Regions from separate parts of the Homo sapiens genome. Here region 2 is reported to be linked to region 1. Evidence: microRNA targets listed by miRTarBase, many of them from high-throughput screens and not tested one by one. Region 1 holds a microRNA gene; the other region holds the end of a gene's coding sequence. Distances are from middle to middle.

Region 1 (4,384 bases):
GATTTAAGCAAAGGGCACAAGCTCAAGTGTCCGTAAGGGAAGCTCATGTAGATAGCTATGCAGTGTTCTTCAGACCCTACACCACCACCACCCACACATCTGACTCCTCTAGGGGTGGGACATCCTGCTAGCCCATCCAGGCCTGCTATCCCCAAGTAGACAGATTTTGTTTTGTTTTGTTTTGTTTTTTGAGACGGAATCTCACTCTGTCGCCCAGGCTGGAGTGCAGTGGCACGATCTCAGCCCACTGAAACCTCCGCCTCCCGGGTTCAAGTGATTCTTGTGCCTCAGCCTCCCGAGTAGCTGGGATTACAGGCACCCGCCACCACGCCCAGCTAATTTTTGTATTTTTAGTAGAGACGGGGTTTCACCATATTGGCCATGCTGGTCTCGAACTCCTGACCTCAAGTGATCCACCCGCCTTGGACTCCCAAAGTGCTGGGATTACAGGCATGAGCCACTGAGCTGGTCAAGATTCTGAACTACAAGAATACCCATCTATCTCATGCAGAGAATGGAATGAGCACTAGATCTTAACTACCACTAGCCCAGCCTCTATCATTTACAGAAGAAACACGGATCCAGAGAGAGGAAGTGACCTGTCCCAGGTAACAGCCAAGGACCAGAGTGAGGAGTCCAGATCCTCCCTCCTTGCTCAGTTCTCTTTTCACAGTCCCTCAAGGCTGCTTAGGGACACCCTGCCATTCCCTTAGGATGACCCTGCACCCTAGCCACAAGCAGCCCTCATCACTCCTTCCCCTGTGCCCAGGCGCCTACTTGGCATCCTGGCCCTCGAGCAGGCTGCGGTAAGTAGCGATCTCCTGCTCCAGCCGTGTCTTTATGTCAAGCAGCATCTTGTACTCCTGGTTCTGAGCCTCCATCTCGCATCGGAGCTCACTCAGCTGGGCCTCCAGGCCACCAATGAGCCCCTGGATCTGCTGCAGCTGCGTGGCATAGCGGCACTCTGTCTCGGCCAGTGAGTTCTCCAGCCCAGCTTTCTGGGGGAGTGACAGATGCATAGACACATCAGGCTAGAAAGGAAGCCACTGAGGGCAAGCAGGGAGGGGGCACTGAATGGAGTTCAGGGAACCACCTCTTGAGGGGGCTTGAGAACTCCAAGGCTTAAATAGCCAGGAAGAGTGGGAGCTTCTACCACCCGAGAGGCTGGGATGGGGCGCGAGTGGCCGTACCATGCTGAGCTGGGACTGCAGCTCGATCTCCAGCTCCTGCATCGTGCGTCTCAGGTCTGTGATCTCCGTCTTGCTGGTCTGGATCATTTCTGTGTTGGAGGCCACCTCTTTGTTCAGCTCCTCAGTCTGTAGGTCATGCACAACAGAAGTGAGCCCCGGGGCCTCCTCGGAGACTCAGGGACCTGGGGCAGGAAGGGCAGGGCAGGATATAAGGCCCACCTTGCTGAAGAACCAGGCCTCGACATCCCGGCGGTTCTTCTCCGCCATGGCCTCGTACTGCTCCCTCATCTCTGCCAGCACACGGGTCAGGTCCACACCCGGTGCTGCGTCCATCTCCACATTGACCTGGCCGGCCAGCTGGCTGCTGAACTCCTTCATCTCCTGCAGGATGGGAGGGACCCACTTAGAGACGGAGAGCAGAAGAGAGACCTGAGAGTCTGGCGTCACACATGCCAATCCTGGCTCTGCCCGTAACACACCCCAACCGCTGTTCCCCATTGCACATGAAGAGGTTTGGTCACATGGACCCCTCAGCTCTAAGGAGTTCTCTGCTGCTCTAGGTCCTACCAAGGGAGGACCCCGAGACTGTAGGGCCCTGATGTGAGCTCACAAAGCCAATCAGGAAGTCAACCATTCATACGGGCCACCTGGGCTGGCTGTGGGCCTGGGCTACCAGACACTGCCCCTTCCTCTCCATGAGGACACCTGGTTTTGTGGGGTAGGTGTGTTTCTGAACCACTAAGCCCCAGGCCAACTATGAGGAAGTACCAACAGCCCCACTCTGCCTCCCACTGACTTAATCTCGTGAAAATCTGGGAGGGCTTCCTGGAGCCACTGTCTTTCCCTCTGGGCAATTTAAGTGAGTTTTGGGAAGAGGTTCCCCACCTCTCTCGGGTTCAGGGGTGATGGGGGCCAGCTCTCACCTCTTCGTGGTTCTTCTTCAGGTAGGCTAGCTCCTCATTCAGGCCCTCGATCTGCATCTCCAGGTCAGTCCTGGCCAGGGTCAGCTCATCCAGGACTCGGCGCAAGCCGTTGATGTCAGCCTCAACGCCCTGGCGCAGGGCCAGCTCATTCTCATACCTGAGGAGAGGGAGGCCAAAGAAGGAAGTGGGAGGGGTCTTGGCTGCCTGAGTCAGAGCCAGGAGAAGGCCAAGTAAAGTGGGCAATGCAGGAAGAGGAGAGAGACGGGGGAGCGCACTTGAGCCTGAAGTCGTCCGCAGCCAGCCTGGCATTGTCGATCTCCAGGATGACCCGGGAGTTGTCGATGGTGGTGGCCATGATCTGCAGGAGACAGAGTCGGTGTCTAGAGGACTCCTCTCTCTCCCCTGCTGCTCTCTGCTCTGCACCCAAGGCCAGCCCCTCATTGAAAATCACCCCTCACTGACAATCACCCCTCTGACACCACCAACAAAAATCTGTACGGCTTCTGGGGTGGGCAAAGTCCAGCCTCACTTTCAGTGTCCATTTCTTGTTTTGTCCCATCCAGCCTCCTTGAGACACCTGAGGAGCTGCCTTCCTTATCTCCAGGGCACGAAAGACCAAGGAGGCAGTATTGCCTGTGGGAATTGGTTGCCCAGGAGAGTGGGGCAGTGGGGTGCAGCCAGCTCTGACAATAGCTCTCTCAGAGACACTCCACCAGCCCCACTGTGGACAACTCATGGTCACTGCCTCCTGCACACCTTGGACACAGCCATGGATCTACAGAACATTCCAGCCAGTAGCAACCTGGAGGGCAGTTAAGAAGGCATTTTACGAATGAGGAACCCAGTCTTAGGGAGTAAAATGGTGAGTGAGTGGGTGGCAGAATGTGTAATGAGTTCCCAGGTCTCCTAAGACCCAACAGTACTTTTGGCACAAAAGACCTCTTTATAGGAAAAGACAAGAGGTTCTAGCATCTGGAACTCATGAGGCCACACTCCAATCCCATTCTTGCAAAAGAGGTAAAGGAATACTTTATGCAGAAGCCTGCAGGGTGCATGAGGTAGGGAGGGCGAGTTGCTCTTTTTTTTTAATTATTTTTATTTAATTAGATACAGGTTCCACTCTGTCACCTAGGCCGGAGTGCAGTGGCACAGTCATAGCTCACTGCAGCCTCTAAATCCTGGACACGAGCAATCCTATCACCTTGGCCCCCCAAAGCACTGGGATTACAGGTGTGAGCTACTGCCTCTGGCTCTTTATAATTGCCCCCACCTGTGCCCCTGTTGGTCCTAACCAGATTCCCAAGACCCCTCTCTCCCTCCCCCAGCACCACCAAGTTGAGAAGATGTGCACTGGCCTCTGCACCTGGACAGCAGGTGCATTCCAAATTTGCTGAGATTACATACCAGACAGTCATTGCCTGGGCAGGAAAGGATTTCCTTGAGTCAGCAGTAACACTGACATTAGAGCTGTGTACAGGGTACCAGCCACCTGCTCCCCTCTCTTTGACATCCGAGGACTCACCTTGTCCCGGAGCTCTTCAATGGTCTTGAAGTATTGGCTGTAGTCGCATTCTGGGCTGGTTGGGGTCTGCTTCTGGTACCAGTCATGGATCTTCACCTCCAGGTCAGCATTGGCCTCCTCCAGGGCACGTACCTTGTCCAGGTAGGAGGCCAGGCGGTCATTGAGGTTCTGCATGGTAATTTTCTCATTGCCAGAGAGGAGACCACCATCGCCACCACCAAAGCCACCACCAAAACCCCCACCAACGCCCCCTCCAAAGCCTCCACCGAAAACACTACCAGCCCCTCCACCAAAGCCACAGACCCTCATGCCACCCCCATATCCTCCTCCTGACCCTGAAGAGACAAACCTAGCAGAAGAAGCTGAGATACTTCGGCTTCCACCTCCCCCAGAGAGACTCCCCCCACCAAAGCCACCTCCCCCAGCCAGGAGGGAACCCCCTCGGGTTGAGCCACCCCCAAAGGTGGAGGAAGAAGTTTGCAGAAATGTGGTGGTCATGGCCAGGTAGCTGGAGCCCGTGAGTTCTCAGCAAACCCAAGAGATGCTGGCAGGAGGTACCAGGCCAGGCTGCACGCTGGGGCTCCTTATATACCCTTCAGAGGGTGTTGTGGGACCTCGTCTCCTCCCCTAAAGCAAAGCCAACTCCTTCTGCCTTCCTGACAAACACAGCTGCCTGCACACCTTGAGTGGGTCATGTGAAGTTTTTCTCTTCTATTTTTTTTTAATGCAACAAAAGAGATGATTCAGAA
Region 2 (4,330 bases), 22 Mb from region 1:
AGAAGCTGAAGTTATCATTTACAGTAAATTTGGTTTTAGTTCTTTGTCATCCTTATTTACCTGAAGCTCCTTCAGGAAAATTACTCTGAGCTCAGAATTAGCTTAGATAACTTATAAATAGGTGTATAACAGGGATCAGAAAGCCACTCTAGGCCTGACATGCTTGACAGGCTCTGACGCAGGAGGTGGGAGTTCCTGGCCCTTCTAAACACAGATGTGACTATTAGGAGCAAAAGGTACCAAGGGCCCTATTTCCCACTGGCGAGGCTTCTTATTCAGCCCTCACTCTTCTTTCTGTTCACGTTTCCTCTTCAGTTCTCAGTGCCACATCATTTGGCATCAGAGATGAAAAGGATCTAGGGCTGGTTGTTCTCAGAACCAAGAAGCTTTCAAAACCAGCTTGTGGTAGCCCTTCTTGAGAGCAGCTCAGTCTTCTCATTGGTTCACTCTGACCAATCCCAGGATGCATAGGGACCCAGGCAAAGCAGGCCCTAGTAAGTCCCTTTTTTTTTTTTTGAAAGACAGAGGCTGGGCGCCATGGCTCATGCCTGTAATCCCAGCACTTTGGGAGGCCAAGATGGACGGATCACCTAAGGTCAGGAGTTCGAGACCAGCCTGGCCAACATGGCCAAACCTGGTCTCTACTAAAGATACAAAAATTAGCCGGGGTGGCACGGTGCAGGGCGGTATGGGGACGCCATGGCAGAGCTGCAGCAGCTGTGGGTGCAGGAGGTGGTGGACTCCATGGTGAAGAGTCTGGAGAGAGAGAACATCTGGAAGATGCAGGGTCTCATGTTCCGGTGCAGCACCAGCTGTTGTGAGGACAGCCAGGCCTCCATGCAGTAGGTGCACCAGTACATCAAAGCACTGCCATGTGCCTCTGGCTCAAGCCCGGGCTTTGCTCACCAGTGAGTTGGAGAAGTTCCGGCACCACCTGGCCCGGTGCGCCATGCATTGCAACAACAAAGCCAAAGATTCAATGGATACTGGGAGTAAGGAGCTTCAGGTGAAGCAGCAGCTGGACGGTTGTGTGACCAAGTGTGTGGATGACCACACGCACCTCATCCCAACTATGGCCAAGAAGATGAAGGAGGCTCTCTTATCCATTGGGAAATAACAGTCTTTGCCAGTGGCCACTGGGGCTGAGGGCAAGAATATATTTTTTATAAGGAATTGGGAATTTTAGTCTTTTAAGCAAAGTTTATGAAGAAATGAAGGATGGCCACAAGTGTAAGACATATGTCACTTGCCTCTGGACACTGGTTCTTTTATGTTTCAGTCCTAAAAAATGAAATGGAAAAAAGTGGTGCTAAATTGGGTCAGAGATATTACAGGAGAGTTTTAGAGCTTATATATCCTATGGCCAGTGCTTGTCCTGCCAGTAAGGATCTCCCCTGTAACAAGCCAGAGCCCTCCAAGGCACTAAACTCTTCTTATTACACAGGTACCAACAGGCTGGCAGGTTAGAGTTGGTGGAGTTTGAGGAGAGATATTTTCTCTTTGTTGCCAACATCCTGTTTACCAGAAGTGTCACCACACCATTTTCCGTAAGCTGTGAAACAAAATCCATGAGGTCACCCGCTTAGAAGGGCAAAAAAGTTTTCTGGGTCTTTGTTTTCTTGGTTTTGTGTAATTTATACAAGGCGATACAAATTGATTTTAAGATGTGGAATTGGGAGGGAGACTAGTTTGGATAAGAACTTTGAAAGTTTCCTTGAGGATCCCCATTTCTGGTCATCAAGATGTAGATGTAGATTTCTTAAAATTATTACATGCTGCATCTTTCAGCCTGGAGACCATGCAAAAACATGAGAGGTGATGACATACTAATTATGGGAAGCATAATTACTGGCTGATGGGCCGAGGCTGTGTGTAGCAAAATGACAGGACAATCTTGCAGTAACACTTTCCCGGTGAAGAGAAGGGGGTTTTGATTGTGATATATACTAGTATCTAGAAATGAACAGTAAAAGAAGAGCAGTTGGCTACTTGATTATAACAGAGTTATGAAGTACTGGATTTGGAAAAACCTGGTTTTTATAGAACGGATGGAATGAAAGCCTAAACCTAGCACTGCCTACTTAGCCCCCTGAATTAACAAAGCACAATTGAGACAAACCCTGGCAACAGGAAATCCAAGGAAGAAAAAGTAAGCAACTTGGGCTAGGATGAGCTGACTCCCTTATAGCAAAGGAGAGGCAGACCCCAGTACCAAAAACCATTTTTGCCTGGGGCTTTCGCAACTTGCAGTGTTCCTGCCCCGGCATGGCACGTTATTGTTTTGATAGCAACCTCATTGTATTTTCATCAACTTACTACTTGAAATGATAATATAGCCTGTCCATTTGCTGCTTCCAGGCTGTGTTATATTTTCCCGGTGGTTTGCTTTTAAAAATAAATAAAGTTTAATTTTCTCCCCTCCCCCTCCACAAAAAAATTAGCCGGGCATGGTGGTGCCTGCTTGTAATCCCAGCTACTTGGGAGGCTGAAGGAGGAGAATCACTTGAACCTGGGAGGTGGAGGTTGCAGTGAGCCAAGATCATGCTACTGCACTCCAGCCTGGGCCACAGAGCAAGACTCTGTCTCAAAAAAAAAAGAGACAGACTCAGCCGGGCGTGGTGGCTCATGCCTGTAATCCCAGCACTTTGGGAGGCCGAGTGTGCAGACCACTTGAGCTCAGGAGCTCGACACCAACCTGGACAACATAGTGAAACCCCATCTCTACAAAAATATATATAAATTAGCTGGGCGTGGTGGCATGCACCTGTAGTTCTAGCTACTTGGGAGGCTGAGGTGGAAGGACTGCTTGAGTCCAGGAGGTCAAGGCTGCAATGAGCTGAGATTGTGCCACTGCTCTCCAGCCTGGGCAACAGAGTGAGACTCTGCCTCAAAAAAAAAAAAAAAAAAAAAAAAAAGAAGAGTTCTCACTCTGTCACCCAAGCTGGAATGCAATGGTGCAATCATAGCTCACTGTAGCCTTAGACTCCTGGGCTCAAGTGATCCTCCCGCCTCAGCCTCTCGAGTAGATGGGATTATAGGTGTGAGCCACTGCCAAGTCCCTTATCACTGGCACTTGATTTCCTACTGGGCTAGAACCTTAAGCTGTTTGGTGAAAGAAGGGCACAGAAGTCACACAAAGAGAGCAACAGATGCTTGCACAGCAGCTCACACTGCCCTGGGACAGCTCCAGTAAAGAGCAGTCCTGTGTTCAGGTCCTACCTTCTAGAGCAGGATCTAACACAGGACACCAGTTGAATAGCTTATGCTCTAGATAAGTACAGTTCTTGGTATATAGCTAGTGTTCCAGAAATATTAGTTGCATGAATGAATGACAGGTTTAGGCTGTAAGACCAGCATCAGACCATGGAGTGCCTGGATACAACTACATTTCTATGGCCAATTAAAAAAATAATCCTGGGATTGGAGTAGTAGAGCTAAGCCTAGGGACTTGAAAGTTAGTCCAGAGGATCCCAACAGCTGGACACAAACTCAGGAAGACTCAAGAGCCATACAACAGCAATGCAGCAACCAATAATCACCGTTATTATTAAGAGCAGTTTCTAGTACAGAGCGCCTCAGGGCACTTACAATCCCCACAGAGGCCAGCTACCCAACATCAGAGTCTGACCAGCTGGGTGGTCCTGCCCTGCATCCGAGAGGGTGTCGGGACACTCATCCAGATGGCTCTGAGACAGCAGCAGAGCTGACAAGGAGGCCCCACAAGTGAGATTCCTTTGGCTTCAAGGTCGCAAGTCCTGTCCTTGGGCCTCCTGGCCTGCTGAGCCTCCCACCGGCTTTACCCTCAGAGATTGCTGCAGAAGCCTGTGTGCTGGAATGGGCTGCCACATTTCTAGGAAGGAACCCGGGGGCACATGTAGCCTGGTTATTCAATGTTATCATAGACGTGAATCACATCCTCGTGGTTGCTGAGAGCCTGAATGAGATGTGCGGCCTGTTCCAGGTCGGGCTCAGCCAGCTGCACCTTTGAGTTGGGGATGAACTCTAGTGCACAGGACACAGAACACAGGCCCAGGGAGTCCAGCTTCTTCCTCACTTGGTGCAGTGAAGAGGCATCACAAATAAACTAGGGATAAAGGAAAGTCAGGAGGTGAGGAGCCAGGAGGTAATGAGACAAAGCCACACAGGACCTTGCAAAGTCCTGAATGTCAGTACTGGAATGGATCACTGGGTTTGAGCTCTTCACTGGCAGGGACATCGTTTTCAATGTTTTGACTCTTTCTTTCTCATAGTCCTCACTAGAGTCGGTCCTATTCAGTATTCACTTAATAAATGTTTGTACAATATGTGAACTGTCTCACCTATACCCTGG

Evidence for each region. Region 1 holds the annotated microRNA hsa-miR-6510-3p (CACCGACUCUGUCUCCUGCAG, at 2,472-2,492, opposite strand). A microRNA usually pairs through its seed, bases 2 to 8, with sites in the 3' UTR of a target mRNA and lowers its output. Matches are read on the target gene's strand: a 7mer-m8 pairs with bases 2 to 8, a 7mer-A1 pairs with bases 2 to 7 and ends in A, and an 8mer does both.
Region 2: miRTarBase lists TACO1 as a target of hsa-miR-6510-3p. The part of its 3' UTR that is shown has no 7-base or 8-base seed match.

The regions. Positions count from the first base shown.
Region 1 is chr17:41,514,695-41,519,078 of GRCh38, forward strand. MIR6510 (microRNA 6510) reads right to left here and starts at 2,523; the gene lies at 2,470-2,523. KRT15 (keratin 15) reads right to left here and starts at 4,196. Exons shown (of 8, transcript NM_002275.4): 1 at 3,636-4,196; 2 at 2,389-2,471; 3 at 2,114-2,270; 4 at 1,410-1,571; 5 at 1,191-1,316; 6 at 778-998. The coding sequence starts at 4,133. RefSeq lists an enhancer at 1,947-2,831.
Region 2 is chr17:63,607,556-63,611,885 of GRCh38, reverse strand. TACO1 (translational activator of cytochrome c oxidase I) reads right to left here. Exons shown (of 5, transcript NM_016360.4): 5 at 3,521-4,084. The coding sequence ends at 3,884. It also overlaps the pseudogene FAM136DP. Among named protein-coding and RNA genes, the nearest start is that of TACO1, 8.8 kb to the right of the region's middle. RefSeq lists enhancers at 279-779, 780-1,280.